Linked DNA regions of Homo sapiens. The protein of the gene in region 4 purifies or fractionates together with the protein of the main gene of each other region. This does not show direct contact. Each region holds a gene or a part of one and is shown on either strand. Other genes may lie near its edges.

Region 1 (6,387 bases), on a different chromosome or scaffold from region 4:
ACAGCTGCTCTGTCAATCTCATAGAGCTGCAGAATGAATCACATGTGATAAGGTCTATGAACCTATTTTGGGAACTGCAATTCATTATATGAAGTATTATCATTACTATAATGTTTTTATTAGCCTTTAACTTAAGGATCATTTAACATCCTCTATGGTTTTCCTAATACTTCAGCTTATGAGCAGTCTTCCAAGAGATAAAGGGGACTCGGGTTTTTTAAAGGGCTGCCTAAGTACTTGCGTCTAATATAAAGTTCTAGATTACTTAGGAACAATATTCCCAGAATGATTAGCTTGGAAAATCCATGATGATGATGAATCACTGAATATCCTTGGGGTGGGGGTGAGAAGGAAGGAAGCAGGGAGAGTGAGGGAGAATAAATGTGCCTCCTGCAAAGAGGCAGAGATGATGAATGTGTTCCTTTTTCCACATAAATTGAATCTTGTTGGTAATAATTCCTGTTCATTGGCCAGACAACATCAAGGACATTTTGTTTTGAATGAGTTTAAAGGCTCTGGGAACCAGGTCCTGCTTTGAATTTATGAAGTCACTGGCCCTTTCTATTCCTGCTCTAGTAGAGACTAACTGGGATGGTAGAAAGCCAAAAATAAATGGAGGAAAATAATACTTGTCCCTAAGTTGCTCAGAATTTAGTTTTACTGTACAAAACAAGTGAGCACATTTCTCCTATTTGCTTTTAAGCCTGAAAGTAAATAAGGAGATAATACAAATTTGTAGGCTGCGGCCACTAGGATAACCCACCCTTGTTGCTGATGTCAAAGCACAACTCATTAAAAACAACCCTCAAGTGATTCTGCCATGTGAAACACTGAAAATGTATGAATTTAAACCAATATAATGTTTTCTCCCAAGGAAGTGAATGGCTGTTAGAAATATGAACATATTACCTTCCCAAAAGAGACACAGAAAATAGCACGCATTCAAAATCTCTTACAGCTAGAAGAAATAATTACAACAAAAGAGGAATGCTTCATCCAGTGGTGTACTGGACCACACATTGTTAAATTTTCAGAAAGTTTGCAAACCAGTTGACATGTTGATAGCTTGGAATCCATAAAAACAAAAATCACGTTAATCCCCACCACTCTAATGACACCTCATGTGGCAGTTTTACATGTTTTTAATAGCTGTATCATCAAGTGGCTATACTGCAGTTTACTTAACCTTTCCCTTAGCTTAACAACATTTAAGCTGTTTGCATGGTGGGAGTATTTAAACCATAAAAATTGGCAATGCTACCAACTAGGGTTTTTCCCACAAAGAGCCAGTTATTAAACATTTATCAGCACACTACTGACCTTATTTCTCATCCAAAACAAAACCAAATATAAAGGGGAGACTCAAACTTTAGCCCTTTGGCCATGAGAATACATTGAACATACTCCCTCTTTTTTTGAGACAGGGTCTCAGTTGCTTAGGCTGCAGTGCAGTGGTGTGATCATAGCTCACTGCAGCCTCAACTTCTTGGGCTCAAGCAATACTCCCTGCTCAGCCTCCCGAATAGATGGAACTATAGGTGTGCACGACACCACAACTGGTTAATTTTTTGATTTGTTGTAGAGATGTGGTTTCGCCATGTTGCTCATGTTGGTCTCAAACTCCTGGGTTCAAGTAATTGTCCTACCTCAGCTTCCCAAAGTGTTGAAATTACAGGCATGAGACACTGCTCCTGGCCAACATATTTTGCTTAGCACATTTTTATCCTACATTGATACATATTACATTAATCAGTTGAATTTATCTAATTCTTTAATTAAAGAATAAAAAATATAACCAGCCATGAGCATTCACTAAAACAGACCACTATTTTGAAGATTTTACTATGAAAAAAAGAAATAATAAAAAATCAAACCTTTTTTAACTTGAATTTTATAAAAATAACCTACCATGGTAGTTTTCATTATTAGAACTCTTTGGAAATAAATTTGGCAACATACATCGAAGGTCATTGAAATATTTGTACTTTTTTTTTTTTTTTCTTTTTTGAGAGGGAGTCTCGCTCTGTCACCCAGGCTGGAGCGCAGTGGCGCGACCTCGGCTCACTGCAAGCTCCGCCTCCCAAGTTCACGCCATTCTCCTGCCTCAGCCTTCCGAGTAGCTGGGACTATAGGCGCCCAACACCACGCCTGGCTAATTTTTTATATTTTTAGTAGAGATGAGGTTTCACCATGTTAGCCAGGATGGTCTCAATCTCCTGACCTTGTAATCCGCCCGCCTTGGCCTCCCAAAGTGCTGGGATCACAGGTGTGAGCCACCGCGCCTGGCATATTTGTACTGTTTGACTCAGTAATTCCACTTCTAAAAAGCTATCCTAAGGATATAATCTTAAATGCTGAAAAATTATATTAATCATGACGGTCACGATAGTTAAAAAGTTGTGAATAATTTAAATGTTTTTCAAACCGAGATAAAGGTTAAGTAAATTGGAACATAGCCACTTGATGATAACACAGTTACTAAAAACGTGCAAGTTTCTATCTATGATGTTGTTACGGTGATGGGGATTTAACATCTGTCTTGTTGGTTTTCTTTTAAACTTTTTTTAATTTCTAAGTTTTTCTATAGTGTTCTTATGTTAGTTTTGTAAGGACAAAAAGAATTAATTAAAAATAGTAATTCCTGAATCAGGAATTGGCTAATTTGACGTTTCTAAGGCTAAGCTCTTTAGACTATTTTTTTCATAATAAATTAACACAGAAGAGCCCAACTGGGTGTAGCATTGGACCCAGATTTACTGCCCTTCCTAAAAAATGCTTGCTCTGGGAACACAATGACACGCATGTTTCAAGGGAGTAAACAAGAGAAAGGTGAATGGGACTACTGTTGACCGGGTGTTGCCTTGTTAAAACTAGTAGCCTTAATTCATTTAAGCAAAAGACTTGCCTTAGGGGTGATTCCGCACCAGAAATTAGAATACAGGCCCCGAGACTCCAGCATGGGGGCCACAATAGTTTTGTTTTCTGCAATCAGTAGATTGAGGGTCTGTGGATTAGTCAGGAAATTGTCAACATCTATGAACTAGGAAAAGAAAAGGATAATGTTAGGTGAAAAGGTACTTTTCAGTAATGAGTTTGAGAATAACCCAGCCCTTCTGAAGGATCCCAGAAACTTGCTCATGACATATGGAACCAGCTATCTATGTCCTCCTTATTGAAACCCATTGCAGCTAGGTGGCTTTCATTCAGTCAAAATATATTTAGTCTAACTTTCGTATGTTGGGCTCTGCATAAGGCACTAAGCAGTAAATTGGTGCTGCCATACTGGGCATAGCCTCAACCAGGAACCAACCTACACTTTGGCTAGTGTTTTAGGCACAAGATATTAATGGCTCCCAAGCCATTAAAGGTTCATTCAAAAACACTTATTGGCTGCCCAGTCTAGGTACAGATGGGCATGCCTACTTAGCTTTTCTATAGTAATGCCAGAGTAGCTCAAAACAGATCTATCAATGAATTTTAATGTGACAAGTAGAATTTTTGTTTAAGTACATTATATCAACCCATGCTAACCAGTGAAGCTATTTCCTATTCTTAGAAGTCCATGTTAACAGTGATTTATTTAGAGACAGTATAACAACAGATTCTAATTTATAAAAGAAATAATCATACTGAACTATACACTGAAAAAGGGATAAACTGACAGATTTTACCTTTTGTAGGTTTTATCACAATAAAAAATTCAGAAGTCTTCATTTTTATGATAGTCCATCTGTTTACCCCAAATTTTGTGATTTAACATTTGTACACTTCAATGGCATTTAAACAGCTACACAATGTTAAATATTGTCAGTACAATTTGAAAACTTCTATGAAAGGATTTGTGTCACAAGTGTGCGTGATACATTTTTGGGCAGATTTTCACTGTGGTTGAGGGGATGGGGATGGACATAAATTCTCCAAAGAGAGCATCACTGTGCCAAGCAACAGATGCTACTCCCCAGATCATTCAGGAGCAAAAGGGAACCATTTCAGAGCTGTTCAGCTGAATCACTTTTTTAGATAATTACTTTTTCATATCCCCCAAATTCTTCCAAAAAGTTGTAAGAACAACTTACATTGCTTTACCTACAGCCTTTCCTGTGAGCTAAAAATATGCAGAGTTCTTATGCCTGTTGCATGGCAGAGACCAAATAATTCAGGCACTTCTTCACTTACCCACTGAAAATGCATGTGGGCCTGAAGATGAAGTCCAGGTAGCCCAATTTTAAACTACCAAAAATTTCATTGTGCCTTTCTTAAAAAGTGGGGGAGGCACTGCCTAATCAAAAAGGTTGTTTTGATTGCTTCCATGGTTCTAGTTTTTGGACGACTGATTTGGATACACCTGAGATGACAGTTGTCAAGAAATCAAACATCTGTTTTTACCAGAATGTAGTCTGACCATTTTTCCCTCGCAGTTCGAAGGGCTGCCTGTCGTAGTTTCATCACATGGGCAAACCGGGAGGTTGGCCAGTGCTTTGGTCCAATTTCATCAGGGTAAGACCTAAAATAATAATAATAGCTCATCATTATTGAGTGCCTACATGTACCAGGCTCTGTCCTAAATGTTTATATGTATTCATTTAATCTTCTATCAATCCCAGGAAGTAGATACTATTATTATTGTTATCATCATCCCCATATTACAGATGAGGAAACCGGAGCAATGAGAAGTCAAGTAACTCACTGCTCATTGTATACAAGAATCTTTACATGAAATATTTCAGTGGGTTCTAATGAGAGCCCTTTGAGGTGAGTACTGCTATTCTCTGCATTTCACAGGTGAGGATATCAGGGTAGAGCAGTTAAGTCATTCGTCCAATGTTACACAATGGGGCACAATCAAGATTTGAATCCAAGCAAAAAGCTCATGTTCCTAGACAATTTTTATACATCCCGACATCGAATAGATTTGGAGAGTATGCAGTGTAAAACATGAGTTTCCCAGGAAAATCAAAGGTTTAATCTACTTGTTGGAGTCTCCACAAATGATTCCACACAGCCTAACACATTGATCTATCTTAGGTAAAGTGAGGTCGTGGGATCTCTATCAAGATTCACAAAACAGCCAGGCCAAGACTCCTTCATGGCCACATAGGCAAGTGGGTTGGAGCACGCTCCAAAACCCTTCTGAAGGCACCCAGCTGGCACGGACATTGATACTGTTGCAGTAACCCAAAACTGGCCACCACTTCAAGATCTCATAGCTGCACTGGCAGTACATTTGTTTTAGTGAGTGAAAAACTGCAAAAACAATGAGACTGTAACTAAACAAATAAGGTTAATAAAACTATGTACAGCACAGGAATTCTCTGGAATATCTTCCCCAGTTATTGTTTCAATGAAAATCAGTGGAATTCTCATTTTTCTAAATATATTCCCCCCAAAAATGCCTGTTCTAATATTTTTTCACACTGACCTTGGCATATAATATATTTAGTCAAAACCTGGCTGCAGAGAACATTACCAAGGTGCAAAGAAGGGACACAAAGTATTTCTGTGCCATTTTTGTTAGGCCAAACTCCATTATAAGGCACTCTAAAGGAGTGTTTACAATCTTTTACGGTGTTCAGACTTCACTGTTAAATTTTGCTTGATATACAGTCCATGGGCTTGGATTTGAGAAACACATATGTATATATTATATCATATTTATATATATTTCTTTATAATATAAATATTTATAATAATTCTTACATATAGAAAGACTAGAAGAACAGAAACTTGTTCTGGAATGGCATTTATTATTACTATAATACAAATTTGGCTTTCAATAAATGACTTCTCTGGGGAAGAAATTCAGGCAACTCCTTCATTCTATTTCTACAGTTCCTTAAAGTAAAACTGTAGTAGCTTTGGGAACATTTATAATAGTAAGTTTTAAATACATTTATTCTTGTTCTTATTTGTTCATCCAACCAGTATTAATTTAGTGCCTGCCAAGAACATGGCTCTGAGGGGAGAGGGGGAATATAAAGTGTTTATATATTCTAGCCCCTGCCAAAGAACTTACAACTTATTTAGAAAAAAAATACATTAATTGCATAGGGGGAAAATGTTGGTTGCGTATATCATTGTGCCAAAAAGGATGACATAGAATATAAGCAATACAATTGTTGAGACAAAGGTAGATATTTATAACTGAGTGATTAAGAATAGGTTTCTATAGTAGGCATGATTTAGGATAAGAATTAGTTATAAAGAAGGAAAGGGTCTTCCAGGACCTGCACAAGCAACAGTGTGGGGTTTGGAAATAAAAGAAACGTTCTGGATAAAGCACATTTTCTTTTGGTGCTAAATTCATGGAATTTTAAAAATATAAGTCTTAGGTGTTTGAACTTTGTTCAGGTCCTAAAGAGTAAGTGAAGTATTTTTAATAAAGAAATG
Region 2 (6,208 bases), on a different chromosome or scaffold from region 4:
CTTTTCTTTTCTTTTCTTTCTTCCTTCCTTCCTTCCTTCCTTCCTCCCTTCCTTTCTTTATTTTGAGATGGAATCTCGCTCTGTTGCTCAAGCTGGAGTGCAATGGTGCGATCTCAGCTCACTGCAACCTTTGCCTCCTTGGGTTCAAGCAATTCTCCTACCTCAGCCTCCTGAGTAGCTGGGATTACAGTCGCACACCACCACACCCAGCTAATTTTTGCATTTTGAGTAGAGACAGTTTCGCCATGTTGGCCAGACCAGTCTCAAACTCCTGACCTCAAGTGATCCGCCTGCCTCGGCCTCCCAAAGTACTGAGATTACAGGTGTGTGCCACTGTGCCTGGATGTGAATGGGATCTTTCTAAAGCCAGGACCTAAGCTCCAAGAAAGGCTGGGGAGACTTTAGCCCCAGGGTAGATCCCTTCATCTCCCGGCCAGGAGCCTCTCTGGGGGTAGTTTTGATTCCCACTTGCTAGTTCCCACAGGACACTTGTCTGGGTGGCAACGTGGAGTGCCGGAACCTGGAAAGATGCACTTGACCAGCAGGGGAGGGTGGAAGATGGCCCCTTTCACTGCGAGCCCAGGGCAGCCAGCAGCCTCAGCAGAGGTGAGGCCCAGGCAAGAAAGAGGACAGAGTGACCTCTTCCATCCTCCACACCTGCACATAGGAACCTCCAGTCTGGTGACCAAGAGAGCAGGTGTCTCCTTGCAAGTCTCAGCCCTCAGACCTTGCCAAGAAAGAGCACCCTTGCTTACTTCAGACAGCACACAGATCCCTGGTCCACGGCAGGAAATCACCCAGCCACATGCTCACACTGACCTGGTGGCAAAGGCCTCTCTGAAAAGGGTCACCCTGTATAAGGCTTGGGCACAGGATGGAGCAGAAAAAAATAGAGCATCTCACGTCCCACCTGACACAGGGGCAGGTGACAAAGCTGCACCTCTCCCTTTGGGAGTTACTAGTCGTCTGGGTGTGCCAGCACCCCCAGATCTTTCTGATCAGAGGAAACCAGATAAAAGCCATAAACGCACTTTGCAGAAGAGTGCCCACCTACACACAAGCTCCCATCCAAGATCAGGAGCTGACAGGCTACCAGGAGACTCATCAGAAGCCCAGGGGCTAGAAGGTCAGAACCAGCTTAATCTATTAAGTGCAGAACATCAAATGTCCTTTTAGATGCTACGTGTGGTTGTGTGCTTCACACATACACAAACATTCTCTGCACTTGAACAACCTCAAGCATCAGGGCCTCCTTCAGTTTTGCACCCCAGGTGTGTCTTTACCTCCCTCTGGTCCTGGCTCAGCATCCCAGGTATCAATCTGTGCAAAGAGGCCAGCAGAGAGTAGAGATGAGAAGGAGCCCAAGGGGACATCCTTGTATCCCATGGTTGTGGAAAACAGTAGCCGTTTTGCGAGTGGGGACTTGCGAACCCCACAGTGGCTGGCAGCAGCTGGTGTAGGGACATGACAGCCATGGGGACAGGTTCTCCATCCAGGCCCACAGGCCCACCCCCCTTCCCCTGCCACCGAGCACAAAGCAGGGTCACCCACCTGGGCCTCCGCTGTCAGGCTCGGGACTCAGGAGAGCCCAGGAGGCAAGTTATTCTCCACTTGTCCCCACTTGGCTGCAGGCAGGACCCTGATCTGCAGTGTGGCCTCAAGACACTCGGCCTCCCCGTCAGTGATGCACTGGGGGCCAGCTTGTGCCGGTATGCTAGAGCCGGTTGTTAAATTCTCAGGAATTTTGTGAGCTGAATTATTCAAATCATTATGCAAGATTAAGGTATAAAAACTATACGGGCCGGGCGTGGTGGCTCATGTCTGTAATCCCAGCAGTTTGGGAGGCCGAACTGGGCAGATCACTTGAGGTCAGGAGTTCAAGACCAGCCTGGCTAACTCTACTTAAAATACAAAAATTAGCCAGGCATGGTGGCGGGTGCCTGTAATCCCAGCTAATTGGGAGGATGAGGCAGGAGAATCCCTTAAACCCAGGAGGTGGAAGTTGCAGTGACCAGAGATCGTGCCACTGCACTGCAGCCTGGGCAACAGAGTAAGACTCCTTCTCAAAGAAAAATAAAAAAGAAAGAAAAAGAAAAAAAAACTATATAAAATTAAAATGATAAAAAATTAAAGTTGAATTATACAAGATACAACTAAATGGATTCTATTAAAACAAAGGTTATAAATACTTAAACCTCATCACTTCCTGATTATTTTTACTGCATCTTAATAATAGCTATGCTTTGAGGTTCTTTAACTGACTGTGTCTATAAGGCGGAAGTACTCTATCGTGCTGTGCTGCTGCGCATCTCGAACCCATGTTCACGCAAGTCATGTTAGCAACTTGAAATTGGCCCTGGTGGGAGTATTTATACAACAGGAACAGGCAAATGCTACAGGTCGGCAGTGATTTGTTTCATGGATTTTCTATGCTTAAAAGAGCATCTTGTCTGTAGCTAGAACACTGTGAGTAGCACAAAACATTGAGGAAACTTTTCTGAATATTGAAAAACTACTACCCAGTTCAACAAAGAAGCCGCTCATGGCACTAAGGCTGCAGCCTGCCCCAACTCTTTGTTGTTTCACTTTGATCTGCTCCTTAACATGAATGAACATTTCAGTGTTTGTGCCAACACCACACTTGCTCATCTGCTGCAACCAATGCTTGGCTACGGATATGACAGTGCAAAGTCACGAGAGCTTTCTATGAGACTCAATCACCTCTGCGGTATTTAGGACAGAGACTATTGCATATTTTGTTATTATTTGTAAATTAAGTGCTACGCATCCTTTATATCAGTACATGTTACTATAAACTTATGTATGTATACAATACATTTGTTTCCTGGAAAGCTGGTTGTTAAACGTTTACCAGGACGCCATGCTCTTCATCTACAAGATGCCTATCTTGACCTCACACTTCCCCCAGTGTGCTGGCAGGTGCCAGAGAGCCCATCAGATAGACAGACAGACAGACACCACAAAGTAGAAATGATTCCTTTCCATGCTAATGTGTTAAAAAAAAAAAAAAGAGAGAGAGTTTAGCCTTTCCCATAAAGCACCAAATAAAATCAAGAAAATGGGCTATGACTTTTGACCCTATTTTCGTGTGTAATACTTTTTAAAGGATCCTTTTATTTATTCAAATAAAATAGTAAATAAAATTAAAAGTATCATTTAATTTTTAATTTTTTTCACTCTGTCGTCCAAGCTGGAGTGCAGCGGCAGTCTCAGCTCACTGCTGAGATCTCCTGGGTTCAAGCAATTCTCCTGCCTCAGCCTTCTGAGTAGCTGGGATTACAGGTGCCTGCCACCATGCCCAGCTAATTTTTGTATTTTTGGTAGAGATGGGGTTTCACCATGTTGGCCAGGCTGGTCTCGAACCCCTGACCTCAAGCAATCCTCCCACCTTGGCCTCCCAAAGTGCTGGGATTACAGGTGTGAGCCACCACGCCTGGCCAAAATAAAAAGTATTATTTAACTTTATGTAAAAATCCAATTGCACCACAGAAATGGCAGGAATAAAAGAATCTTAAAATGAAATAATTTATATAAACTTTAACATAAAAGGTAGAGCCAGGCATGGTCACTCATGCCTGTAATCCCAGCACTTTGGGAGGCTGAGGCAGGCAGATTGCTTGAGCTCAGGAGGTTGAGACCAGCCTAGACAACATGGTAAAAACCCATCTCTACAAAAACCAAAATTAGCCAGGCGTGGTGGTGCACACCTGTGGTCCCAACTACTTGGGAGGCTGAGGTGGGAGGATTGCCTGAGCTGGGGAAGTGGAGGCTGCAGTGAGCCATGATTACACCACTGCACTCCAGCCTGGGAGGCAGAGCGAGACCCTATCTCAAACAAACAAAAACAAAATAAAACAAAACAAAAAAACAGGCCAGGTGCAGTGGTTTATGCTTGTAATCCCAACACTTTGGGAGGCCAAGGCAGGCAGATCACTTGAGGTCCAGAGTTTGAGACCAGCCTGGCCAACATGATGAAACCCTGTCTCTATCAAAAAAATACAAAAATTAGCAGGGCGTGGTGGTGCACACCTGTAGTCCTAGCTACTCGGGAGGCTGAGGTGGGAGAGTTGCTTGAACCCGGGAGGCGGAGGATGTAGTGAGCTGAGATCAAACCATTGCACTCCAGCCTGGGCAACAGAGTGAGACCTTGTCTCAAACAACAACAACAAAAACAAACACCCCCCAAATCAATCTAAGGTGGAATATGTGTAAAAATAAGCTATTTCTATAACTGTAATAGACTCACAGCTGGACATTTGACTGCAGGTTGGCTCCCTCAGTGAATTTTTCTGTTTTGTACACAGATAGGGAACTAATCCTTAGTGAGCACCCTCACTGTATATCAGGCTCTTTCAGAAATGCTGTCCTGCTTGTATTTGTTTATATATTCATTTCCTAGTGTTTCCAGAAAAGATTTGAGACCGCTTATAAAAATACATACAATACAACAGGATAGAAAAACAGATAAAGAAATTAGACCAAAGGGTAAGTTAGGGCAGAAAAAAAAATGTGTATAAAGCTGGTGCACAGAAATACAAACTGTGACATGCTGTCACCAAACTGCTAGTGGTTAGATGCAAATTGGGTTCTAAGTGTCCTGGAGTCCAAGCACAAAGAAGAAAATAATCAGTTTGAAGAGTCACAGTGTCTGTAAGACATCCATTGCTCCAGAGAGGCATGGATTTCCTGGATCTGGAGTCTGAGAGTCATCCTCTCTGGGCTTCTCCTGTGGAGGTCCTGGGTGGAATGCGAACAGCTTAACGTCATCTCAGCAATAAATTCCACTGTGAGTTTCCAACCTCTGTTTCTTATGCAGCCTTCAGCACAAGCCACGGCAGTGTACCCATGCCAAGAAAGAATGCCCACATCTGACTCAGGAAATGAGATTCTCTCAGGATCTCAAGCACTGTGAGATCCAAACACACAGCTCTTGGACTGACTATCTGGATACAGGGGAAGTTCCCAAAATATAGTTACGTATTGCTTCACTACAGGGATCTGTTCTGAAAAATGTGTCATTAGGTGATTTTGTTGTTCTGCGAACATCGTATACAAAACTTAGATGGTAGAGCCTACTCCACCCCTAGGCTCTGTGGCATAGCCGGTTGCTTCTAGGCTACACACCTACACAGCCTGCGACTGTACTAAATACTGCAGGCAGTAGTAACACAGTGGTGAATATTTGTGTCTCTAAACATAGAACAGGTACAGGCAAAATACAGTGTCTTCATCTTATGAGACCACCATCATATATGTAGTCTGTGATTGACCGAAATCTTATGTGCCCTGTGACTGTGTCTAGGTTCATGGCTCTCAATCTTACTAAATTTACTTTCTCTTTTGAGAAACAACAACACCATGCTCTCCTTTGTGAGGTTTCAAAATGAATATTGGGCATAAAAGTAAATCAAAGAAGTTGTCATGTAAGATGTGTCTTTTTGAAGTACAAGGACCCCCTGGTGGTTCTGACATTGAGAATTGAGTGCACCCTGTAAGAAAAGTTGTGTGCTCCTCAGCTTCAACTCACCTAAAAATTAGGGCTTTGTAATTTAATTCTGTTAATCCTGTGATGTGCTATTATCAATGAATGAAGAAATAAGACTGAGAGGATATAATTAACCTACCCGAGACAGGTAAGGCTGCTCGTATACAGTGGGGTCAAACTATTATCATCTCAGGAAGGCACACAGTGACTTGCTCACATTGCCAGGGCTGAACCTTGCACTGGAGCCCTCTGGTTGACAAGGCCAGCCGTCTAACCACTACACTGCAGGACGAGACCACTCAGATGTGGCTGCTTTGTCTGACTTCTATGTCCAAGTCCTTTCCACTTCCTCATATCCACAACACGCTGAGAGAGAAAATTAAAGTAGTCTTCCTAGATATTTGACTGTGTGATTCCAAATATTTTGGGGTTCACAGACCCCTTTGGGAATCTGACAAAAACTGTAAGTACCCACCTACACAAAAGCTTGTTTACAAGTTCACGGAGCTCAGAGCACCAGGAAACTCATCAGGAATCCACAGACTCAATGCTCAGAACCCACTTCATCTATTAAGCACAGAACCTCAAATGCCCTTATAGACACCACATGGCATTGTGCGTTTCACACATACACAAACTTTTCCTGCACTTGAACGACCTGAGCATGGGAGCCTCCTTACATTTTGCATCCCAGGTGTGTCT
Region 3 (5,362 bases), on a different chromosome or scaffold from region 4:
AAAAGTACACAGAAGGAAGGAGACACCTCATGACGACCCCAGTATGCAGTCTGGGACATGTGTTTTCAGATCTGATTCTGTGAATATTTCATTTTTTATGGGTAGGGTCACATACATATATATTTTTGTCCTTCCTTTTGTCATTTAACATCCTATAGCCTAAATGTTCTTGAATAATACTGACAATTCTGTCTAAGTATCATTTTTAATAGGTTTGTAATATCATTGTGGGCTGGCCGTGGTGGCTCATGCCTGTAATCCCAGCACTTTGGGAGGCCAAGGTGGGTGGATCATCTGAGGTCAGGCGTTCAAGACCATGCTGGCCAACATGGTGAAACCCTGTCTCTAGTAAAAATACACAAAAAATTAGCCTGGTGTGGTGGTGCACACCTGTAGTCCCAGGTACTTGGGAGGCTGAAGCACGAGAATCACTTGAACCCAGGAGGCGGAGGTTGCAGTGAGCCAAGATTGCATCACTGCATTGCAGCCCAAGCAACAGAGACTCTGTCTCAAAGAAAAAAAACATCGTTGTGCCAAGCCAGACTATTATTTAAGCCATCTGGTACTTTTGGAACATGTTTGATGGTTTCACTTCATTTCTGTGATAAATAATATCATGGTAAATTCAAGTCTTGTTCTACATTTTGGATTTTTTTTGTTTCAGTAGGTTCTTCCTAAGATTAGAGTTACTGGGTCAAAGGTGGTGAATAAGGGTCTCGGTGTACGTTGACCAAGTGTCTTCCGTAAAGACTGTACGAACGTCCAGTTCCAGTGTTTGAGAGTGCTGGTCTCACTGACTCTTCTCCAGCACTGAGGGTTTTGTGTTTCTTTATTTGTTTTGGTTTTAGGTCTTTACCAATTTGATTGGTTTATCAACAGGGCATGAGGTTGGTTTAAATATATCTTTGAGGAAAGGTAAAGTCAAATTTGACTTCATAGGTCATCGGCGTCCTCACTCCTGTGCATTTTCTGTTGGAAGCACACAGTTAATTAACTCAGTGTGGCGTTAGCGATGCTTTTTCATGGTGTCATTTATCCACTTGGTGAACTTGCACACTTGAGTGTAGACTCCTGGGTCATTGGGTTGGCCGCAAGGGAAAGTTCCCCAGGACACCAGACCTTGCAGGGTACCTCTGCACACCAACGGTCCCCCTGAGTCACCCTAGAGGGAATAGAGCCGGAGATTAACTTTGGCTTCAGATCAAAGCCCAACTCATTCTCATACATTCCTCAGTTATCGGTCTTTGTCTTGCAGATTATGGACTTCCACCATAGCCAATGAGAAGAGACTCATTGTCTCTGGGGACTAATGGGAGAGCTAGTGCTAGGGACACACTAGGTCCTTTGAAGACACTGGTTTGACCCTTGGCCAATGAGACCAATTGCAGAGAAGGGGTGGGGCTTCCAGGATCAGAGCACTCTTTATTTTCCAATGTTAAGGACCCTGCTCCAAGCTAGTGGGAGAAGGAACATCATCTCCAAGGGGTGGATGCGTGCCCTGTGGCGCAGGAAAGGGGGACACGATGGTCTCGGAGACCAGGGTGAAGACCAGTTACATAATTTACAGGACTTGGTGCAAAACGAAAATGCAGGGCCCTTTGTTCAAAAATTATTGAGAATTTCAAGACAACAGCAGGAATGCATTAGACTAAGTTTGAGACCCTTCTGAGTGTGGGGCTCTGTGTCCGTGCAGAGCTTGCACATTCATGAAACTGGCCCTCACCAGGGGAGAAGGGGAACACCCTATTCTCTAGGACAGTCATCTCTCTCCCATCTCCTCTATCCCTAACACTCACCATCCCACATCCCCTGACAGCTGAAGGTGCAGATGTGAGCAAGGAGGATGGGTGTGGAGAGACAGAGAGAGTTGGAGGTGGAGAAGAAAGAGGGAAAGGAGAGAGAGACAAAGAGAGATGAGGAAGAGGGAAAGGGTATGGGGAGAGAGAGAGACAGAGAGATGGGGGTGGAAAAGAAGGAGGGAGAAGAGAGACAGACAAAGAGATGAGGGAGATGGGGAGGGTGTGGGAAGAGAAGAGAGAGAGAGATGGGGGTGGAGAAGAAAGAGGGAGAAGAGAGAGACAAAGAGAAAGGGGGGGAAGGTGTGGGGAGAGAGATGGGGTGGGGGTGGGGAGAGGAGAGAGAGACTGGAAGAGAGGAGGAGAATAAAGAGAGAGAAAGAAAGACAGAGATGGGGGAGCGGCAGGGAGAGGAGAGAGATAGAAGAAAGAGAAAGAGAGAGACAGTAAAAAGGAGGGGGCAAGGAGAGATGAGGGAGAGAGATGAAGAGAGACAGAGAAGTGGGGGAGAGAGAGAAAGAGGAGAGGGCCAGAGAGGAGACAGAGAGAGAGGAAAAAAGAGAGAGCAGGGGGGCAGGGAGAGGAGAGAGGGAGGGGAGGAGAGAGAGAGAAGCAAGAGAAAGAGGGAGAAGACAGAGAGCAGAGAGGAGGGCATGGAGAGAGAACAAGGGAGGGAGAGCAAGCTAGCTCAACACAGAGAAAAAACAAAGAGGAAAAGAATGAAATGAAATTATGTCACAAAGAGAGATGTGGGAAGACTGTTCAGAAACAGAGGGGATGACAAAAGGCCAGAAAGAGGGAACAGAGAGGAGGTGGAGAGAAAGAGTGTTTTCCCCGGGACCAGGGCCAGGGTCAGGTGAGTGAGTCATCAGCTTCAGGCACAAAATCTCAGTAACTGCAATACACAATACTTCAATGCAGTACTTAACGAAATCAAATGTAATACATAAAACTGCATGATGGGCATGGTATCCACATTTTAAATGAAGACAGTGCCAGTACAGCGCTGTGCTGAGCCACGCTAGTACTTACGGCAAGGGAAAATTCAGTAAGATCCACCTGCTCTTTATTTAAAATGTGACATTTTGTCCATCATGGACTTCTGCATGAGTTTTTATTTTTATTTTTAAATATTGCATTATGATTTATCTCAATCACTGAGGTTTTTGGTGCCCCCTTAAGGTTTGGGCCTGAGGCCAGCACCTCAGTCTCCTTCCCTGGTCCCACCCCCACTTTCTCACCCCTATTAAACTCTCTGTCTCATCCCCAGGGCCACATTGGCCCCTAAGTAAACTCCCACCCCTGACCTAGGCAGAGAATGAGGTGGAAAAAGCTGAGGAGGCCAGGCCTGGGGGGAGGGCAAGGCCGGGCTTGGTACCCAGTCACTCGGGTCAAGCTCTGTCCCTGGGGCATGCAGACAGGGTACCCAGGACTGGGGAGGAATTGGGGGGGAGGGTCTCACATTGCAGGCGTTTTTCTTGGAGTCGGGGATGCCAGCGCACAGCATGGAATTTTCCAGTAAGTCCTTGTAAACCTTCGTGCAGTCCTGGGGGGAGATGAGCTTGACATCCACGCACATGAGGTCAGAGGGAAAGGTCACTGCAGGGAGGAGCAGGGAGAGCTGTCAGTCAGAGAGGATGGGGGCGAGGACCAGAAGGGCTGTTGTTCAGGCTCCTGGTTCCGAGGGAGGAGGGTCTGGGGCCCAGGACTGCTGGGTCTGAGGGAGGAGGGGCTGGGGTCTGGACTCCCGGGTCTGAGGGAGGAGGGGCTGGGGGCCTGGACTCCTGGGTCTGAGGGAGGAGGGGCTGAGGCCTGGACTCCTGGGTCTGAGGGAGGAGGGGCTGGGGGCCTGGACTCCTGGGTCTGAGGGAGGAGGGCTGGGGCCTGCACTCCTGGGTCACTGAGGCCACCTACCATCTGGGCTCGTGGTAGTGCCCCAGCCGGAGACAGTACAGGTGGTTCCAGGGGGTTCGCAGCGGGAGGGCAGCCTGACTTTCTTCACCATGGATGACAGCCTGGCCTGGCTATTGAGCTTCACGAGCATGAGGTCATTAACATGGGTCTGTGTGGAGTAGCCGGGGTGGCGGAATGACTTCGAGGCCTTGATCCTCTGAGCTCTCCTGTCGCCCAGCGTATCACTGCCCAGGTGCACGGTGTACTCACTGCGAGGAGTGACATTCACAGATTCAGAAGAGACACTGTGACAGAGAGGGTGTGCAAAGACCTGGGGGACGGGGTGGGGACAGAGACCCAGAGAGAGGAGGGGGGACAGAGACACAGAGAGAGGAGGGGAGACAGAGACCCAGAGAGAGGGGAACAGAGATCCAGAGAGAGAGGGGGACAGAGCCCCAGAGAGAGGGAGACAGAGACCCAGAGAGGGGGGGACAGAGACCCAGAGAGAGGAGGGGGGAGAGAGACACAGAGATAGGAGGGGGGACAGAGACACAGAGAGAGGAGGGGGGAGAGAGACACAGAGAGAGGAGAGGGGACAGAGACCCAGAGAGAGGGGAACAGAGACCCAGAGAGAGAGGGGGACAGAGATCCAGAGAGAGAGGGACAGAGACCCAGAGAGAGAGGGACAGAGACCCAGAGAGAGGGGAACAGAGACCAGAGAGAGAGGGGGACAGAGCCCCAGAGAGAGGAAGACAGAGAGCCAGGGAGAGAGGGGGACAGAGCCCCAGGGAGAGGGGGACAGAGATCCAGAGAGAGAGGAGGGGGAACAGAGACCAGAGAGAGAGGGGAACAGAGACCCAGAGAGAGAGGGACAGAGACCCACAGAGAGAGGAGGGGGAACAGAGACCAGAGAGAGAGGGTGACAGAGACCCAGAGAGAGAGGGTGACAGAGACCCAGAGAGAGAGGGACAGAGACCAGAGAGAGAGGAGGGGGAACAGAGACCAGAGAGAGAGGGGGACAGAGACCCAGAGAGAGAGGGACAGAGACCCAGAAAGAGAGGAGGGGGAACAGAGACCCGGAGAGAGAAGGGGACAGAGACACAGAGGGGAACAGAGATCCAGAGAGAAAGGCAGACAGAGACCCAGAGAGAGGGGGACAGAGCCCCAGGGAGAGGGGGTACAGAGGCCCAGGGAGAGGGGGACAGAGATCCAGAGAGAGAGGGGGACAGAGACCAGAGAGAGAGGGACAGAGACCCAGAGAGAGAGGAGGGGGAACAGAGACCTAGAGAGAATGGGGGACAGAGACACAGAGAGAGGGGAACAGAGATCCAGAGAGAGGGGGACAGAGACCCAGAGAGAGGGAGACAGAGAGCCAGGGAGAGAGGGGGACAGAGCCCCAGGGAGAGGGGGTACAGAGGCCCAGAGAGAGGAGGACAGAGACCCAGAGAGAGGAGAATAGAGCCGTAGGCACAGAAAGACTGCCCTTCCACCCCCATAGCGAGCTGGAGACGCTGGTGCACCTCCAGCAGAGACTTGGGCGGCACCTACTTCATCTTGCAGTGGGCGGCAGTGAGCACCCAGCGCTCATTGACCAGGACGCCTCCGCAGTGGAGCTGATTGCCACTGAGCAGGGCCACCTGCCATGGGTGGGAGCCTCTTGCACATGGGGCGCC
Region 4 (6,387 bases):
AATACAAAGCCAGGGTATAAGACTTCATGTAGGTGGTAATTTAAACTAACAATTAGTGAGGCCGGGCGCGGTGGGTCACGCCTGTAATCCCAGCACTTTGGGAGGCTGAGGCAGGTGGATCACAAGGTCAGGAGATCGAGACCATCCTGGCTAACACGGTGAAACCCCGTCTCTACTAAAAATATAAAAAAAAAAAAATTAGCCGGGCGTGGTGGCGGGCGCCTGTAGTCCCAGCTACTCGGGAGGTTGAGGCAGGAGAATGGCGTGAACCCGGGAGGCGCAACTTGCAGTGAGCCGAGATTGCGCCACTGCACTCCAGCCTGGGAGACAGAGCGAGACTCCGTCTCAAAAAAAAAAAAAAAAGAAAACAATTAGTGAATTTTTGCTGATGCTTTCCTTAAACCCCTTACTTAGCACTTAGTTCTGGATTCTTAAATCCTGATAATGGACTCATCCTTCTCGGTCTAGTTACCCCAGTAAGTCCCAAGGTCATCCATATGAGGTCCTCCTTGATCTTACTCTGAATAGAATTAACTGGTCTCTTCTGTTTTTCCATAGCATTGACTCATCGTGTTAGACCAGCTTGAATTGTGAGCCTTTCTAAAGCAGGGTCTGTATAATTTACCCTTATATTTGCTCTGTAGGCAGAGAAAATATTATTGAAGTAACTAGATGGTAAAATTAACTGTGCAATCAGAAAAGAAGTTAGAAAAAATTATTAAAATTTTCTGTGAAAATTGTTTTAATTTTATTAATATATTAAAGCATTTTGCAGACTATTCCATAAAGAATTTTATTACATTGGCTCTCATTTTAAAGAAAACATTATACCAGGTGTCAGAACTCAATCATATTTGTAGGAAGAATAAGCCTTGGCCATCAACAACGCTTCTTTGGTTACAGGATTACAGGAACTGCTGAGAATGTAAGCACTTTCCGAAGTCCACAAAGAACTCATTTAAAGCTCGTACAGGCAGTTTCAAATTAGCCAGGGAAAAGTTAATGGTGGGGAGGTAAGGTCATAGAATGCTCTATAAATGGAGGCGACGTGGAGGACAGTTGCAGTTGTATAACATTTGATTGAAGGAGAGGGATTTGGACCTGAGGAAACCAGGTCTATAAATACTAAGGCTGGCTGGGCACAGTTGGCTCATGCCTGTAATCTCAGCATTTTGGGAGGCTGAGGCCGGTGGATTGCTTGAGCCCAGGAGTTTGAGACCAGCCTGGACAACATGGTGAAACCCTGCCTCCAAACAAACAAAATTAACCGAGTGTGGTGGTGTGCACCTGTAGTCCCAGCTACTCAGGAGGCTGAGATGGGAGGATCTCTTGAGCCTGAGAGGTAGAGGCTGCAGTAAGCCCAGATTGCACCACTGCACTCCAGCCTGGTGACAGAGTGAGACTCCATCTCAAACAAACAAAACGTACATGCATATATAGGCTGTAGACTAAATAGTGAAATATTACTAAGAACCTTCATCCCAAGGGGTTGAGTGGTAGAACCACTGAGAATATTGTTGCTGCTCTTTTGGAGACAACAAACTGCATTAATAAAAGTCTGAGAACAAGAAAGTTGAGTTTTCAAGTAATGTCCTTTGCATATTGCTACATAGGGCTCATCTGAGTCTGTGATGTTCTACTTTGTTGATGAAAGAAAACAAGTGGAAATTCTGCTCCCCCACACATCCTGCACTGCAAAAAGATAACAAGTAGCAGGAGATACTCAATTATGATGCAGTTCAACAAAGAAAACAAATTAAAATAAAGAGATCCTGGGTGGTTAAATACAGAGTCTCCTTTGTAAACAGCAATGGATGATGATGATGACTGTTACCAGGGCTCTGTATGATCATTTTCCCAATTCTTTGGAGTACTTTTTTCAAAAGCACTCTTGTAGAATTAACTGGAAACATAGACTACCCTTCACTCATTACATGGGAAATGGGATTGAATTCTCTTCTTGGCAATGGAAAATACTTGATGCATGCAAATAAGAAAACTCTTACTTTTTCCTTCTCTCCTTGCAGGGGGAGCACGCGTCCTAAGCTTGCCAGGAAGCCCTGCTCTCCTGCCCTGGGCACCTCCGTTCCACTTGACCTTTTCCACCTGTACTCCCTGCATTTTGGTCTCTTGCTCTGGTCTTTAGCCTTCGCATTTTCCTGATGCAGCCCAAACCAGTCACCTCTCTCCTAGATTCATTCTCTGTGCTCAGACCATCTCTTTCCTTTAGTTCCTGTGACGAAAGAAAATGTATTTGGCCATTGGAGGTATAAGCAACAAAGAATCCAACCCACACAGCTTTATATATGCAGGTTCTCTATATGCTCTTCTTGTGAACAGCGTGGGGAGAGGAAAATAGACTTGGCAAGAGGACTAAGAACAGAATCGGACAGTTATCTGATGGCTTTCCTAAGGTTCAGGAAAGAACAGTGGTCCCTTTGTTGGGCCTTTCTGTTGTTTCTTTGTTTTCAATTTCACTGATTTCTGCTTTTTATTTTCTATTTTCTTCTGTTTCCTTTGGAATTCTTCTTTTTTTTTTTTTTTTTTTTTACTTCTTGTATTAGGCTCATGCTATAACAAACAACCCCCAAATCTCAGTGACTTTACACACTAAGAGTTTACATTTTCCTCATCAACGTCCACTTTGGATGTTCCAGGTTGGGTAATGCTCTGTGGCTGTCCTCTAGCTAGTGACTCAGGGACTTGGGTTGCTCCTGGTGTCTCCAGCGTGGTTATGGTGTCTCCAATTTTGGACTTCAAGGTGACCCAGGCATTATCCACCTGGTAAATTGGGAGATGGGTCCCAGGAAAGTGAATACTCAACCAACCTGGCCTAGAAGTGACAATAATAAGGCCATGTGTGGTGGCTAACAGTCAGAAACCCAACAATTGGGAGATTGAGCTGGGAGGATTGCTTGAGACCAGAAGTTCAAGACCAGCTGGGCACCATAGTGAGACCCTATCTTTCAAAAAAATATAACAACCAGGCTTGGTGGTGTACACCTGTGGTCCCAGCTATTTGGGAGGCTGAGGTGGGATAATCGCTGGAGCCCAGGAGTTTGAGGTTACAGTAAACCAGGTTTACACCACTGCACTCCAGTCTGGATGACAAAGCAAAACCCTCATCTCACAAAAGAAAAGAAATGACAATCACAGCCACTGCAACTTCAAGGAAGGTTGGGAGAGTGATATTGGTCAGGATGAGTGGTCTCTGACATGTTTCTTAAGTTGGATATTTAGCTTATTAATTTACAACTCTTTTCTAATATTAATACTCAAGACTACATTTTCCCCAAAACATTTATTTTGCCATGTTTTGCAAGGCTTGGTATATGGCATTTTCATTACTCTTTAATTCTAACTAATTTTTAATTTCTATTATGATTTATTATTTGATCTATGAATCATTTTGAAATTTGTTTTTGTAACCTTGGATAGGGAAAGATTTCTTATAGAAGACAGTAAAAGGGCTGAGTACAAAAGAAAAGACTAATAAATTCAGCTACGCTAAAGCTTAGAACTTTTCCTCATCATAGGACACCTTAAAGAAAATTTTTAAAAAGTTACAAATTGGGAGAAGATTAAAAAGTCCTAAGGGTTAGCAGTAAGAATATATACATATAATTATTACAAATTGGCAAGAGAATGACAAATCAACACAAAAACGAGCGAAAAGGCATTTTGCAAAAGAGAATCAGATGGTCCATATGCATGTGAAGCGATTTTCACTAGCGAGCAGGGAAAGTGAAGTCAAAATCACAGGGAGATGCTGCTCTCTACCTGACTGGCAAAACTGAAATGATTAGAAAATACTTGGAGGATATCCTAGAACGATCAGTGGGATCTGGTATATTATGTGTATGAGGTTAAATTAGCAGTGAGTATTCACATACCCTATGACTCAGCAGTTTCATTCCTAGATATATATCCTGGGGATTAGAAACACTAAGTAGGTGGGTGCAGTGGCTCACACCTACAATCCCAGCACTTTGGGAGGCCAAGGCAGGTGGATCACTTGAGGTCAGGGGTTCGAGACCAGACTGGCCAACATGGTGAAACCCCATCTCTACTAAAAATACAAAAATTAGCCAGGCGTGGTGGCGGGCACCTGTAATCCCAGCTACTTGGGAGGCTGAGGTGGGAGAATCGCTTGAACCCCGGAGGTGGAGGTTGCAGTGAGCTGAGATTGTGCCACTGTACTCCAGCCTGGGCGACAGAATGAGACTCCATCTCCAAACAAACAAACAAACAAACAAACCACTAACTACCTCAGAGGACAATGCTAACATTTCAAAGTGTTCTAGAAGTTGGTTTCCCAGAAAAGAAGTCAGGCTCTTGTGGAGCTCCATGGAAACTGGCAATGACCCATGACTTAGGGCAGTGAAGTCTCATCAAATGCAAGGCTTAGACCCCATTCTGCTGCTGCCGTCAGGGGAGGCAAGGGCTCCTTGTTCCCCAAACATCGATGCTAATGAAGCAAATCCTGCTGCTAGTTTGCAGTGTTGCCTAGCTGCAAACACAACCTCTGATGATGCCAATAGAGAGGCTGGTGCCTCCTTCATCATAGAGCTTACAATCCCCACAAGGTTTCGGGACCCTCTTTTGGATTCTGAGGGTGGGCTCCTTTAGCCATCTGTTTAGTGCCCCAGATGAAATTGACAGCAGGGGACCTGCACTCCTTCTACTGCTTTTTCTCAAGGCATCCCCAGCAGAGGGTCTCTAGGGTGCCTGTTATGTGTGCTGTTTGGCCATCTGCCTTTGTAGAACACAGCCCAATGTCTGTTGGCAAAAAAAGGTTTACATGTGGTATATTCTTACCATGGAATATTCTGCAGCAAGTAAAAATGAATAAATTACAGCTATTCATATCAAAGAGATGGATTTTATTAATATAGTGCTGAGTGGGAAAAAGCATCAGAAGACAACATATAATGGTACACTCTTTTTTTTTTTTTGAGATGGAGTCTCTCTCTGTTGCCCAGGCTGGAGTGCAGTGGCTCCATCTCGGCTCACTGCAACCTCCACCTCCCAGGTTCGAGCGATTCTCCTGCCTCAGCTGCCCGAGTAGCTGGGACTACAGGTGCGCACCACCACACCAAGCTAATTTTTGTATTTTTAATAGTGACGGGGTTTCACCATGTTGGCCAGGATGGTCTCTGTCTCTTGACCTCATGATCCGCCTGCCTCAGCCTTCCAAAGTGCTGGGATTACAGGCATGAGCCACCATGCCCAGCTACATTCTTTTTAAACATTCAGAAACAGGTAAAACTGAAAAATATATAATTTAGACACAACACTTATGTGAAAAGACCAAGTTTAGGATGTTGGTTACCTGTGACGGGGCAGCAAGATTGTGGGAAAGGAAGGAAGCTACAGGTATGTGACAGAGAGTTGCATTAGCCCAAATCTCTACAGAGCTGGTGTCAAGGATGAAACTATTGGTGTTTTATTTGGAAGATACAAGCCCAAGGCGAGGTGAGAAAAAAGAGAAGGGAAGCAAAAGAAGACACAAAGTGACACAAAATGGCATGAACTAAATTACGTTCTCTCCAAATTCACATATTGAAGTCCTAACCCCAGTACCTCAGAATGTAACTGTATTTGGAGATTCGGTCTTTAAAGAAGTGATTCAGGCTGGGCCTGATTGCTCACGCCTGTAATCCCAGCACTTTGGGAGGCCGAGGCAGGCGGATCATGAGGTCAGGAGATTGAGACTATCCTGGCTAACACGATGAAACCCTGTCTCTACTAAAAATACAAAAAATTAGCCAGTTGTGGTGGCAGGCGCCTGTAGTCTCAGCTACTTGGGAAGTTGAGGGAGGAGAATGGTGTGAACCCAGGAGGTGGAGCTTGCAGTGAGCCGAGATTGTGCCACTGCACTCCAGCCTGGGTGACAGAGTGAGACCCCGTCTCAAAAAAAGAAAAAAAGTGATTCAGTTAAAATGCAGTCATTATGGTGGGCTCAATCAAGGACATGTGGACACAGATATGTATGCACATGGAGGAAAGACCATGTGAAGTCGGGGAGAAGAAAACCAGCTACACACTAAAGAAAGAGGCGTCAGGCCGGGCGCGATGGCTCCCGCTTGTAATCCTAGCAGTTTGGGAGGCCAAGGTGGGCAAATCACTTGAGGTCAGGAGTTCGAGACCAGCCTGGCCAGAATGGTGAAACCCTCTCTCTACTAAAAATATAAAAATTAGCTGGGCGTGGTGGCATGTGCCTGTAATCCCAGCTACTTGGGAGGCTGAGGCAGGAGAATCACTTGAACCCGGGAGGTGGAGGTTGCAGTGAGCCGAGATGGAGCCACTGCACTCCAGCCTGGGCAACAGAGTGAGACTCCATCTCAAAAAAAAAAAAAAAAAAAAGCCTCAGAAGAAACCAGTGCT
Region 5 (6,387 bases), on a different chromosome or scaffold from region 4:
AGGGCAAGGTATTTAATGCCTACTCATTTTGGCATTTCAAGAGTTAACGCATGGTTTCTCTGCTGATGGTGGCATATCCCAGGGCAAATGAGATCATAGCATTAATGAGGAGAACCACAGTCCATTAGGTCTGAGTCTGTTAAGTCATTTTATCAAACAACTGACAAACGTGAGAAAAATTTGGGTTACTGCTTGCTTGAGCTGAATGTTTAATGTTAAAGAACCACTGCCCCAGGAAAGTAATATTTTGGGCTATGGCCTAGCCCTTCAGTCAGTCAATACCTAACTTTTGTTAGGTAGTTGCTTTTGTCACTAGTCTAAAGTCTCTGCTACTTCATTTCTACAGCTTCTTCAGAAGAATGCTAACAACAACTTCTTAGGGAGGTCTCTGGAAATGCTTGACATTCACCTAATGCTGCATATGAAAGTAATGCTACTCTTAGGGTCAATGAATCAAAACGGAGAAGGACAGAGAGGGCCTATGGAAAACCACAATGAAGAAAAGAAAGGGCTGCTCTTCCCTCCAAGTTGTGTGCCCCTGGCTGTAAACCTTGGGTTGCAGACAACTGGTGTGGCCCCAGCCTACTCCTAAGGGTGTGGCATGGCTTGGAACAGCCCTGCTGGGGTAGGTTTTCAATCGGAATGTGGGTATCCATACCCAGATCACTCCTGGTTTTTTGATTCTTAGAGACTGGGTGGGAGCTGGAGTTTTACTAGGTTATGTTTGTTTTCTGGGAAATCTAAATGGCTGGAACCATCTTTGCCACCTGCAGCTACTGTCCACCCAGACCACATCAGGTCAGAGTAGTGGGCCAGGGTTGAATATAGTTTAGGCCCACATCACCAGGTTTGGACTAAGACCAACCTGACCTTTGGGGAACTGGGGTGGACAAAGGGATATACAAAAATTCAACCCATCATACTGTTTTTCTATAGGCGTTTATGTCTGTGGCTTTGGGGACAGCATTTCTATGTTGGCCACAGCCACAAAGGATGAATTCACAAATGCAGTATGGCTTAGCTACTAAAACCTCGGGGTTACTCTACAGGGAGGGTAAGGGAGAAGCAGTACTGCTGCAGAATACCCCTCTGAGGTCACTGATCATGCCAGACGGACACAGCCAATTTCACTGGAAAACAGTTCACCTATGACATTTCAGAAGAAACATGGCTGGAATGACACAAGACATGGCACTAGTTGAGTTTGTGATTGTGCATTCCTTAAGGAATGGGTGACATTTTTAAAAAGCTTATATTTCTAAACGTCAAATGTTTTGGATTTAAAGGTGAATATAAGGTGATTGGTTAGGTCTTGAAAGTGACTTTGTGAAAAGTCTAAAAGTGGAAGTATAAAGTTGACCCACTGTGAGATGATTAATGATGGGCCAACTGCTCTAAGTGCTTAGGAGAATTTGGGGTGTCTGCTGAGTCATCAAAAGGCCTTTAGGCCACAAAGGTTTCTAAGAGGTTTACAAGAAATTTCTAAATGTTTTTATGTAGTTTTTGACATGTGAATAATATATTGAGTGCTCACATGGATCAAACCAAATAATGCCATTTCAAGATAATATTGATTGTTTAACACAGATGTGATTCAAATCAGTATAAAGGAAAATGAAGGTTTCACAGGTACCTGGTGGTCTCTTAAAATGCAAACACTAATGCAAATGTTGAAACGGATTTACCTTATCATTTCTTTCACATAGAAACTTTAACCTTTGAGCTCGCTTATGCATAAATACTCCATCCAAATGTCCTGTTTCCACTGACCGGATCTCAATAGCTTTCTCGCCCCAGCCCATTATCTGATTGGAATGAATGTAGGCTGTCAAAAGGAATTTCCAAAACTGCATTAAAAACATTAGATGGGCAATAACTCACAGCATCTGTTCACATCTTAACCACAAAAATGACAAACGACTTGAGATAAATGGACAAAGCAAGTCTTACAAGAGTTATTCACAGATTTTTTTTTTTTTTTTTTTGTGGAATCAAATGGTTGTTTCACATTTCTTGATTTTCGTTTCATTTGGGGGGTGTAACTGCTGAAGGAGATAAGGAATGGTTAACCTACCCACAGACGTGGGCATTTCTCCCCATTGGAGCACCACATCCTTAGTTATCCGGCCATAGGTGTTTACATACACCCCCTCATCCTCATAGCAAACAAGCATTTCCATTCCATCTGTTTTAGGCAAGATGACAATAGCATGAGGAGTGATATTGCCCTGAATCTAGAAGACAAAGAAAAGCCAAGCATTATTCTTTTAAAAAATAAAACACCTTGACTATTCATCTCTAACAACTGCAAAAAAGAGGTTTTTGTTTATTTTCATTGTCACCCTAAAGACTGAAATTTGCTTTAATTTAACCACTGACTTGTAAAATACCCTGGTAAATCAAACTTAGTCACTAGATTAAAAATTCAATTTACCTGTTCCTAAAAAGAGCATGTAAATCTATGGCACACCTACTATGTGCCAGTCATGGGGCCCTTTACATATATAATTTCTAGTACCTACAATAGCTCCCCAAGGTAGATAGCTTTGTTTACAGATGAGGAAACTGCATCTCAGAAGGGCTTTGTGTCTTAACCAAAGTTGTGCTAGTATTTGTTGGTAGAGTTGGGATTTGTGTATATCTTGCTGACGTTGAAATTAATGTGTTTTCTATTAGCACAACCACTTCCAAAAGAAGATGAGGAGAATGTAAGCCAGCTGAATCTAATGGAGATAGCTTAAGTGGGGTCAAAATGAACTACCAAAATAATCTGTGAAAAAAAAATATATATATAGGATTGTTTATCCGGGTGTCTAAATGCCAGAATAATTCATGGCTTGGTTAGAAAAAATATTTAGAATGACCACTCATTAAAAAAAATCATTATTGCCGCACACAGTGGCTCATGCCTGTAATCCCAGCACTTTGGGAGGCCGAGGCGGGCGGATCACGACGTCAGGAGATCGAGACCATCCTGGCTAACACGATGAAACCCCGTCTCTACTAAAAATACAAAAAATTAGCCGGGCATGATGGTGGGCACCTGTAGTCCCAGCTACTCGGGAGGCTGAGGCAGGAGAATGGTGTGAACCCAGGAGAGGCGGAGCTTGCAGTGAGCCGAGATCACGCCACTGTACTCCAGCTTGGGTGACAGAGCGAGACTCCGTATCCAAAAAAAAAAAAAAAAAAATCACTATTGAAATAAGTGTATATTAATTTGTTCTAGGAAAGGAAATGTGATGTTGTTGTGATCCCCTAGTTGAGAATGCCATGGCAGCCCAACATGTGCTTGACAGATTGGACTAAGAGAGTTGAGGATTATCATAGTTACACCTTAGCTGCCTCACCAGGAATGTGAGCTGTGAGTCCTTGTGTTCACCCACATCCACATGAGTTAAAAGTGGTAATAATGCAGCAATGAATGGCAGTCGTGTGTGTGTATGTAATATACTGAAACAACTTCTTTTAGTTATTGCGTTTCATTAGAATAAAGTCTTAAAACTCTCAAAATACCAGTCAGCGGTAGCTTCAAACATTCCTGATAAATAGTTTCTCCTGTGTGTTAGTCTTGGGATTACACACAGGACACACACTTTACACTACACTTAATCCTAATAAGTGAATCCATGTGCAGCATTTCCCTTTAACAGTTATGTTTCAAGCAATATGTCAGGATAGTAATATGAATATTTTAGGGCTAATAAGAAGATCTACAATTTGCAGGGCCCTGTACCAACTGCTTTAGATCCATTACCTCATTTAATACTAATGATAATCCTATGGGATAAGTCTTTTTATCCATATTTTACAGATGCGAAAGCTGAGGATTGGAGAGGCTGCCTACTGTGTCCATTACTGCAAAGCTAATACATGCTAGAGCCACTGTGTCTGACTCCAGTGTACCACACTGCCCTCAAGCTGAAGAGAGGAACTAAAAATAGCAAAAAAAGAATTTTCTCCAATAAATTAGTACCTGACCATTGGCTTTCTCTAACATAAAATGAACGAATTTCCCTTCAAAAACTGAATGTGGAAACTTGTCTACCGAATATAATTCATGCCCTTGAAAGAAATATGTCATATTCATTTTAATCTAAAGTCCAAAGAGACAACATGTAAATGCCAAATGATTTCTATTATGTATTCCCCAATTTTAGGAAGTCATAAAAATTAGTTAAATTTATATATTTTAGTTATTAAAAGCAGTATACTTAATGAAGAACGAAAGTCCATTTGCTGGTTAGTAAAGTGTGCATGACTTCTACTAAAACTATGCAAAACAAATCTCTTTCTACATGCAGGCTGTTGTACAGAGAGCCCTTGAAAGTCTACTTCTGAGTACTTACATGAGATGGTATGTAGATATCATAAGAGTTTCCTGAATCAACATCAATTACATGGAAACCAGTGTGTGAACCAAAAATAACCTTTAATCTTTGACCTTCTTCTACCGTGAGATCAACTAGCAGAGGCTTGTGCTGGAGATCTGCAAAAGACTTTAAAAATCACCCCATTAGTATCCGCATCACTCAAAGAGGCATCTTAATTTTTTTCCTTTAGCCACTGTCTAGAGGAAGTTAACTTCTAACTTTATTAAAGTGAAAAACTAGAAAATTTCTCTTTCAGTTTTAGGTCTGTTGATATTCTGGCCCTAGGAGGAAGGGTCTAGCATCCATTTGTGCCCCTTTCTCTACCCTTTGTCCTTCGGGGCAGTGAAGTTTAAGTTGGTGCACAGGTGTAAATTTTGATAGTGGTAATGTATATTAAAAACCTGGTGCCTGGGTATTGCTGTTTTTTCCTGTTTATTTCTGGCCTTTGTCCTCTGAAGAAGGCCCAGTCACCTCTCTGGCCCCCCTCTTTCCCATGTGGCAACCAGGCCCATCCACAGCAACTACCCTTTCAGAGACAGCCTGGGAGGGACAGCCAAGGCCGGCTGTTTTCTCAGCCTGTTTAGTATTAATGGGCATGCTCTGGTTTGGATTTTTCTTCAGTGAATGAGTAGGCATAAGATTGGCACTTTCTCTTAATGTTGGAATCTGAGACTTGGGTTTGGGTGGTAGAGAAAGAGGTGGGAGTGGAACATCACAAGATTGATGGCTTGCATTGACTATTTGGGTTTAACTAGAAAGCAAAAAGAGAGATCTTGCCAAGTTTGTCAAAGTTCTCTGTGTTTGAATCCAGAGCCCAAGCCCCAACTAACTGTCAAGTGTTCCTCTGCCATTTTCCTTTGCTATTTTTTAACCACGCTCTACCTTTGGGCCTTGAGATCTGGGAGAGCATTTGTGAAACTACAATTGCCTTAACTATAATGCCACTGCTACCTCTCAGACCCTTCTCTTCTCATCTTTTGCTAACACCATTCTGACAGCATGGGAAGCTCTAGCGTCCTGTCCTTGTCCTATGGGAAGGCTTGGCCTCTTGCCAGTTCCACTCTTTCCTGTTCAAGTCTTTGCCTTTGCTCTTCCCTCTTTCTGGGCTGGATAGGGTCTGTCAGAAAGAACATTTTGCACTCTCTCATGTGTCTCTGGGTCATAAAATAATGGCAATAACTTCAGAGCAAGAATGGGAATGGGATGTTGATTGAAAAGCTTTTGTGGAGATAGATTTTGGCAGAACAGGAGTACCACTTTGGCTTTTAGGAGTTATCCCTTGTTATTAGTAACCTAATGCATTCCAATTTTTTTCCATAAAAGTGAGGTCATGGAGGGGAGCCCATTTCCATTAATGAATCTATTTTCTTGAGCACATCAGAAGCCATCTGCCCTAAGGGAACAAGATAGAAGTGATTCAGCTCTGAAGTGGGCCTACATGGTGTTCCAAGGGCAGTTTTGCCCTTCATGAGAATGTGGCAGAAAATAATAAGGAGCCAAATGGAGATAACAGTCATAAAGGTGGGGAGAAAAAGTGAGAGCCAATGAGACATAAAGAAGTAGACAGACATAAGCTGAGAGAGAGAGAGACAGAGAGAGATCAGAGAGAGAGAGTGAGAGAAAACAGAAGATAAGTTCACTTGGGCTATGGATAGGTTATGCGGCTCTGAACACATCTGGGTGCCTGTAAGTACTGGTCCTCCTGGTATTCGGGTGTCAGCTTCATGAGCTGGGGTCAACAGGACTAGCATATCCCCATCCCACTCCTGGCAAATCTCATGAGTGACCAATCCAACCATGGTGGGTACAGACTTAGACAAGGTAAAAAAATGAAAAGGCAATCAAAATAGAAGAATGCAGAGAAACTAGGTCATTTCTGTAAGTTAGCACTGGGGACATATAAGCATCACCTGAGTTTTAGGGACTTCATTCAGAAAGATTTATGAGGATTAAAAGAGACTCAGTTTAACTCTGAGATTCAGTGCTGCCATTTGTCTGCCTTTTTCAAACAAAATAT

What was found.
Region 1: the proteins of CNKSR3 (region 4) and COLGALT2 purify together in Homo sapiens (affinity purification with mass spectrometry; 2 studies listed by BioGRID and IntAct, with this or other methods). This does not show direct contact.
Region 2: the proteins of CNKSR3 (region 4) and BLK purify together in Homo sapiens (affinity purification with mass spectrometry; one large-scale study listed by BioGRID and IntAct). This does not show direct contact.
Region 3: the proteins of CNKSR3 (region 4) and KLK7 purify together in Homo sapiens (co-immunoprecipitation; one large-scale study listed by IntAct). This does not show direct contact.
Region 5: the proteins of CNKSR3 (region 4) and TNIK purify together in Homo sapiens (co-immunoprecipitation; one large-scale study listed by IntAct). This does not show direct contact.

Annotation. Positions count from the first base shown.
Region 1 is NC_000001.11:183,970,711-183,977,097, forward strand, and holds part of COLGALT2 (procollagen galactosyltransferase 2), read right to left. Parts: intron 4,505-6,387; coding exon 4,387-4,504; intron 3,041-4,386; coding exon 2,906-3,040; intron 1-2,905. UniProt on the Homo sapiens protein: Beta-galactosyltransferase that transfers beta-galactose to hydroxylysine residues of collagen.
Region 2 is NC_000008.11:11,498,179-11,504,386, reverse strand, and holds part of BLK (tyrosine-protein kinase Blk), read right to left. Parts: intron 1-6,208. UniProt on the Homo sapiens protein: Non-receptor tyrosine kinase involved in B-lymphocyte development, differentiation and signaling. B-cell receptor (BCR) signaling requires a tight regulation of several protein tyrosine kinases and phosphatases, and associated coreceptors.
Region 3 is NC_000019.10:50,976,530-50,981,891, forward strand, and holds part of KLK7 (kallikrein-7 isoform 1 preproprotein), read right to left. Parts: coding exon 5,238-5,362; intron 3,959-5,237; coding exon 3,711-3,958; intron 3,396-3,710; coding exon 3,259-3,395; intron 1,163-3,258; coding exon 1,007-1,162; 3' UTR 1-1,006. UniProt on the Homo sapiens protein: May catalyze the degradation of intercellular cohesive structures in the cornified layer of the skin in the continuous shedding of cells from the skin surface. Specific for amino acid residues with aromatic side chains in the P1 position.
Region 4 is NC_000006.12:154,390,778-154,397,164, reverse strand, and holds part of CNKSR3 (connector enhancer of kinase suppressor of ras 3), read left to right. Parts: 3' UTR 1-6,387. UniProt on the Homo sapiens protein: Involved in transepithelial sodium transport. Regulates aldosterone-induced and epithelial sodium channel (ENaC)-mediated sodium transport through regulation of ENaC cell surface expression.
Region 5 is NC_000003.12:171,064,502-171,070,888, forward strand, and holds part of TNIK (TRAF2 and NCK-interacting protein kinase), read right to left. Parts: intron 4,497-6,387; coding exon 4,347-4,496; intron 2,235-4,346; coding exon 2,075-2,234; intron 1,826-2,074; coding exon 1,686-1,825; intron 1-1,685. UniProt on the Homo sapiens protein: Serine/threonine kinase that acts as an essential activator of the Wnt signaling pathway. Recruited to promoters of Wnt target genes and required to activate their expression. May act by phosphorylating TCF4/TCF7L2.